2 linked regions of the Homo sapiens genome follow. The protein of the gene in region 1 purifies or fractionates together with the protein of each later gene. This does not show direct contact. Each region holds a gene or a part of one and is shown on either strand. Other genes may lie near its edges.

What was found.
Region 2: the proteins of MYH9 (region 1) and ENKUR purify together in Homo sapiens (affinity purification with western blotting; 4 studies listed by BioGRID, with this or other methods). This does not show direct contact.

The regions. Positions count from the first base shown.
Region 1 is NC_000022.11:36,377,832-36,381,487, forward strand, and holds part of MYH9 (myosin-9), read right to left. Parts: intron 1-3,656. UniProt on the Homo sapiens protein: Cellular myosin that appears to play a role in cytokinesis, cell shape, and specialized functions such as secretion and capping. Required for cortical actin clearance prior to oocyte exocytosis. Promotes cell motility in conjunction with S100A4.
Region 2 is NC_000010.11:24,992,006-24,995,661, reverse strand, and holds part of ENKUR (enkurin), read left to right. Parts: coding exon 1-16; intron 17-3,656. UniProt on the Homo sapiens protein: Adapter that functions to localize a calcium-sensitive signal transduction machinery in sperm to a calcium-permeable ion channel.

The DNA.
Region 1 (3,656 bases):
ACCCGAGAGGCGGAGCTTGCAATGAGCCGAGATGGTGCCACTGCAGTCCAGCCTGGACGACAGAGCAAGACTCCGTCTCAAAAAAACAAAAAAAAACTTGAACGTGTATTTCCTACCACCTGAGGAGAGATGATGTTATTGTTACTATGAAGAAAAGGAGAAGCTGGACGAGGTGGCTCACACCTGTAATCCTAGCACTTTGGGAGGCCAAGGCAGGTAGATTGCTTGAGCTCAGGAGTTTGAGACAAGCCTGGGCAACATGGCAAAACCCTGTCTCTACAAAAAAAAAAAAAAATTAGCCAGGCCTGGTGGTGCACACCTGTGATCCCAGCTACTTAGGAGGCTGAGGTGGGAAGAATGCTTGAGACGGAGGCCGAGGCTGTAGTGAGTTGCTATCGCGCCACCACATTCCAGCCTGGGCAACAGAGCAAGACGCTGTCTCATAAAAAAAGAAGAGAGATGAAGGGGAGGAAGAGGAGGAACAGACCACTTCACATCCATTTATAATGCTAAGAAAGAGGCTTCTCCACGGTGCAGATGGGAAAACTAAGGCGAGCAGCAGGAGAAAAGGCGGGGGGTCTGCTCCTAGCTCTGCCTGATCCCAAAACTTTATTTTGTTCCTTCTCCCGTGCATTTTGTGTTGAAAATATAACAAATTATCACCGGAGACATTAAGTGACCTAAAGTTACTAGAAATCAGGGCTGGCTGAGGACAGTGGGCAGCAGTGTGGCTTTCTGAATGGCCCACCCTGCTGCCTGGCACCACCCCATGTGAAATATTGATTTTTCGAGCTGTGGGAACTTTCAGCCCAAGTGGTCACGTCCAGCTGGAAGAAGTTCAGAGAAACCCAAAACACTTCCCACCCCATTCCTTAACCCTAGTGCCCCCCAACAAAAAACAACAAAAAAGACGAAGGGAGTAGAAGAATAGACTCTTAAGGAAAGATTAAAGGAGCTCAGTATGTGTTGCTTGGCTAAACAGGGCATAAACATCAAAAAAAAAGAGAGTCACCATTTAGAAAACACGCTTAAATGAAGCCTCCTGATTTGGAAAGGCACTGGGTATGAGCGAAACCAGGGGCCAAGGTTTTCTACCGACTCACAGAATGAGCTTAAGCAAATCGCTTTTTCTCTAATTAGGAAAAAAAAAAAGAAATGTTATTTTAATTATTCCCAACATCTCTTCCAGCCAGGCATTCTATAATTCTAAATCCAGTAGGGAGGGTTTTCATTGTTGTTGCTGATTTTTCTTTTAAGCAGGGGATGATTTCAAATTAGAGTTAAAATGCAAGAAGAAAGGCTCTTCTTTCTAAGGCCCACGTCCTTTTGGTGAGTGGCAACCTACTCAGAGATTAGCTTCGAGCTCCCCCAACACATTAAAAATTGTACAGAGAGGCCAGGCGTGGTGGCTCACGCCTGTAATCCCAGCACTTCGGGAGGCCGAGGCGGGTGGATCATGAGGTCAGGAGATGGAGACCATCCTGGCTAACACGGTGAAACCCCGTCTCTACTGAAAATACAAAAAAAATTAGCCGGGCGTGGTGGCGGGTGCCTGTAGTCCCAGCTACTTGGGAGGCTGAGGCAGGAGAATGGCGTGAACCCGGGAGGTGGAGCGTGCAGTGAGCTGAGATCGCGCCACTGCACTCCAGCCTGGGTGACAGAGCGAGACTCCGTCTCAGAAAAATAAAAAGTTGTACAGAAAGACATCATCTTGGCCTAAGAAGGCAAGAGAGGGACCTCCCTGAGAAGCCCCTTTTCTCCTCTGGGACATACCATAAGGATGGTAAGGGCCTCTGAGAAGTACCAAGGAAGTGACTCGAGGGTGGGGAAGATCAGCTACCTGTAACCCCACTACAGGCCTTAGCCCAACCTGCACGGCAGGAAGCCACACCCTTCCGGAAGGCCCTGCAAAGGCTCCTTCCAGCCACAGCAGGAGGGTCCTGGGCTAGAGATGCAGACAGCCACTGAGGGACTCCCAGCTGCTCCAGCGCTTGGCGGGCTAGCTAAGGGCCTTCTCTGGGGACACCTGCCCGGGTGCTGAATCATCTCAGGCTCGAGAAGCTAATCGTGGGAATGGGAACCTGAGTAATTCCAACAGAAGCCTAGGTTACTTTTTAAAGAGACATGCATCAGAGTGGGCAGCTCCCCTCCTGCCTCCCAAATATTTGGTGCCATCTAAGCACAAGGGACAGGGAGCTGGGTACAGATACAGGCCGCCCGCCCATGCAGTGGCGGTCCCATTTTAGAGCCAGTCTCATAGTGTGTGCTCATGTGTGACTCACACCATTCCCCCAGGAGGCCCGGAGGCTGCCTTGCAGGACCTCAGGACCCTGATGGGGTCTTCCAGACTTCACTCAGGAAAGGAGTCAATCGGGCACAACAGCAGCGCCGGCAGCTCCTCCCAGGGCCCACACCATCCAAGGCGAAAGACAGCCATCCTTGAGAAGGGGGGTAGGGCCCTCCCATTCAAAACACCCCTCTGATCACATCTTCTCAAGAATTTGGGCTTTTCCAGTGTTGTTATACATAAAAACCACAGGCCAGATGTCTTAGGGGAAACTGGGGACAGAGTGGGAAGGGGCATAATAGTGGATGCAATGACCCCAAGTTAAAAAAGAAGGCCAGGTGGCCGGGTGCGGTGGCTCACGCCTGTAATCCCACCACTTCGGGAGGCCAAGCCAGGTGGATCACCTGAGGTCAGGAGTTCGAGACCAGCCTGGCCAACATGGTGAAACCCTGCCTCTACTAAAAATACAAAAATTAGCCAGGCGTGGTGACAGGTGCCTATAATCCCAGCTACTCGGGAGGCTGAGGCAGGAGAATCGCTTGAACCTGGGAGGTGGAGGTTGCAGTGAGCTAAGATCACGCCACTGCACTCCAGCCTGGGCAACAGAGTGAGACTCTGTCTCCAAAAAAAGAAAAGAAAAGAAAAGAAAAGAAAGAAAGCCAGGTATGTGAGGGCCTGGGTTGGGCTTCAGGTTGGGGTGGGCTCCCCAGGACAGGACAGCTTATGATTTGGAGCCAAGCGAATTATGGAAACCTTGCAAGAGGGTATCCCAAAACGCTTTCCAGACACACATGCAGGCTTTCTCTTCTCATACAGCAAAGAAAAATCAATCATCTACCATTTCCCAGAATATGAGGAAGTAGATCAGAAAGGACTTCTGTTTAAGGGGTTACTCTAGTGATGTGACATCATGGGAAGAAAACAGGACCCAAAGGTTTCAAGCACAAAGACCCTTCCCTCTTACCTTGTAAAAGGTAGGCATTCAATATGCAATATGGAACCTAAAGCAATGCACTTTAAAGTTGAGACCTACAGATTAGCCAGCTGGACCCCTTATTTTTATAGTTAAGAAAAATAAGAAATAGCTGAATTTTTTATTCTTTAGGGACAATATGGCCGGGCACACTGGCTCATGCCTGTAATCCCAGCACTTTGGGAAGAAGAAGCAGGTGGATCACTTGAAGTCAGGAGATGGGGACCAACCTGGGCAACATGGTGAAACCCCGTCTCTACTAAAAATACAAAAAAATTAGCTGGGCATAGTGGCGCACACCTGTAATCCCAGCTACTCAGGAGGCTGAGGCAGGAGAATCACATGAACCCAGGAGGTGGAGGTTGCAGTGAGCCGAGATCGATCATGCCACTCCAG
Region 2 (3,656 bases), on another chromosome or scaffold:
GTACATCAATAAAAAGGTAGCCTTGTGGTATATTAATAAGAGGGCTGAAATTCAAATAATTTAAATATGGTGTTCATGATGATCATCTATGTTATCATTATTAGTGCTCTCATTGGACACATTGTCTACTTTGCTGATTCTCATTCTTCTGCAATCTGTGTTTGGTCCAAATGTAATGGGATGAAGTTACAAAGAACCCATAGTAAACAATTCCATATAGTTCAGTAGATAAAAGTTATTGTTTTCCTTAATTTTGATTATTAACATATTTAACAATTTTAATAAACATTCTCTGAAAGATATTTTTGGTTAGTTGGAAATGTCACTAAAAGCAGTCATTACTGTAAATCTAGAAGGAATAAGCTGTCAGATGGTCTTAAGATTTAGTCATTAATTGCAGTAACTTGGCAGCTGAATAAGAAAAATGAAGCAGAATGCAGCTTTAGAGCCATCCATCTCATCAGTGTAGTATAAATAATTCACATTCCTATTTTAACATGAATATATTTATTTGGTTTTGGTTTTGGGTAAAGACTTGAAAGTACTGTACAATAATCTAGTCCTTTTGGGTCCTTCATTTGTATCTGAAAAGGTGTGTAATTTCATTGGTGAACATTATAGTTTAAATATAGATTTTTTTTGAGACATATTCTCATGCTGTTTCCCAGGCTGGAGTACAATGGTGCAATCTCAGCTCACTGCAACTTCCAACTTCCGGCTCGAGTGATTCTCCTCACTCAGCCTCCCAAGTAGCTGGAATTACAGGCATGCATCACCAGGCCTGGTTATTTTTTTGTATATTTAGTAGACAGGGGGTTTCACCATGTTGGCCAGGCTGGTCTTGACTCCTGACCTCAAGTGATCCACCCACCTCAGCCTCCCAAAGTGCTGGGATTGCAGACATAAGCCACTGCACCCAGCCAAATACAGATCTTTAAAATAAAAAAGCTTACAAAAAATCTTATTTAATGCTACTTTATTTTGCGCACTTATAAAGCTTAAAAGTGCTTGAAACACACAAAATATGAATGCAGGCTGGGCACAGTGGCTCACAACTGTAATCCCAGCACTTTAGAAGGCCAGGAGGATTGCTTGAGGTCAGGAGTTCAAGTCCATCTTGGCCAACATGGTGACACCCCATCTCTACTAAAAATACAAAAATTAGCCAGGCGTGGTGGTGTGTGCCTGTAATCCCAGCTACTCGGGTGGCTAAGGCACGAGAATCGCTTGATCCCAGGAGGCGGGGGTTGCAGTGAGCCAAGGTCGCGTCACTGCACTCCAGCCTGGGTGACAGAGCGAGACTCGGTGTCAAAAAAAAAAAAAAAGAGTGCAGAATTCTAAAGAATAATAAGTTGCATCAAGAAGAAATGAAGGAAGGGAGGGAGAAAGGAAAGGAAGGAAGGAAAAAGGAAGAGAGAGATAAAGAAAAAGGAAGAGAGATAAAGAAAAAAAGAAAAGAAATTGCAATAGTGATGTACAGGGACCTAAAATTGAAGAGTCCAGTGATCTACCATGATAAATCCAATGCCAGTGGAAAATCAAAACAGGACCCTCAAGGCTGTTTTCAGAGGACACTGTCTTCTCAGGAATCTAGGAGTTCCCAGGATAAGCCAATAAAGTTACTTCAGGCTTCTCCAGGTACTTCCTCCTTCTGTGGCCCCTGGAAACTGTTTTATAGTCGTTGTCCCACAGGATAGGGAAAAGTGGAAAACTCACTCTCATGGCTCTTAAAGCCACTTCCAGTCCATTATTTCTCCATGATCATATGAAAAGTCTTTACTGGTCATGCCACCACCTGTCACACACTCTGCCCCTCCCTTCTGGCTGCTCTCTAAGCTGTCCACTTGAATGCATTTTCTACCTTCAACAGGAAATTTGGAGTATCCATCATGGAAACAGAAAAATACCAGAGTTTACCAAACCATGAAAGCACTGTGCACCTAATGCCCTTTTGGTGTTGCTGACTAAGCAATCAGTGCTCATGAAAGACTTACTCAATTTACTTTTCCCTTATCAGAGTTAAGTTTTAAAGATCTATCATTGGTAGGTGAGATAGTAAATAAATTCTTTTAAAGTCAATGTCATATTTTTATAAAATGAGTGAACTCCCATTTCAGCTCCAAGTGAATTATATGCCATTCATACCATGAGAAACAATTTCTGAAAACAAGCAAGGATAGATGATCACATGAGGTATTTAGCAATACCAGTAAAGACATTCTTTCAAAGTCTAACTCTGCCACTTAGTAACTGTGATTTCCAACAATCCATTGGATTTATCACAGGGTTGTAGTGAGGATTAAATTATATAAAGTATATTGAGCACTTGACACAAAATGTGACACCTAATAAAAGAACAAAGAGTGAATAGTATAATATATGCAATTTTATTAACAGTATGCATTAGCCTCCGGTGATTCAGCCCATAGGAATATTTCAGATCATTGAAGCTTTTGCTCATTTGTGAGTTTTTTTTCTGAACTGTATCACACCATTCCCTTTCTTTTTAAAAACACTTAATTTAATTTTTTTTAGAGATGGAGTCTCACTATGTTGCCCAGGCTGGTCTTGAACTTTTGGGCTCAAGCAGTTCTCCTGCCTAGCTGTCCCAAAGTGCTGGGGTTACAGGCTTGAGCCACTGCGCCCAGTCATTCTCTTTCTTAAACAGAGTATGCCAAATATAATTTAATCTTTCTGTGATCCTGCAGAATCATCATGATGAAGCTCCATTATTGTACTAAGCTGTAATGAGGTGTTTCCTTCAGTGTTTCCTGAAGTGGATTGGCCTGTCTCACTCACTGCACCAGCTGACCAGAATACTGGCCTCCCAGAGTCTATTTGTATTGTCCTCTGCAGCTTCCAGAACACATTTATATCTAGGATTTCTATCCCTTGTTCAGTCAGGATGGGTTAAGTTACACTGTGATGACAAACAATCCCCAAATTTCAGTAACTTAAAGCAACAAAGTGTTATTGTTTGCTTTTGCCACGTGCCCTTTGAGGGTTGTTACAGGCTCTGCTTCTTGTCCTTCTTCCAGGACCCAGAAAAATCTAAACATTGCTTGTCACTAGACCAGACAGGAAAAGACACAGCAAGTCATCCACTAATTCTTAAGACTCCTATCGAGAAGTGGCAGAGGTCACCTCCACTGACACTGAGCAATTCAGGGCATATGGCTACATCTTACTTTATGAGGACAACACAGGAAAGTGTTGTCCTACCAAGTGTCTAGAAGGAGAACAGAATATTTGTCAGAATTTTAATGACTACCATACCTCCCAACTGCTGCTTCTTCGGAGAGTTCCTCCCCGACCTCCTTATTTATCTAAAATAGCCCCTATTATTTTCTTTTCCCCCACTATCCTTCTTTATTTTACTTCAGAACACATACATATTATTTCATTCTCTATTTTTGGTGAGTCTCTGTCACCATAGAATGCAAATTCCCTGAAGACGGAAACTTTGCCTTTTTTATTCACTAGTATTCCTAGCACCAAGTACATTCTCAAACATCTTTTGAAGAAGGAATACATAGTAATTCTGTTTCTATAGATGGTGAAATCAAACGCATTTACTAAGCTGAAAGAATCACAGCTGATGGCTTCACTGTCAGTCGTTGTGACATGGGAAAATTCCCTTATTCCCCTCGCAGAGT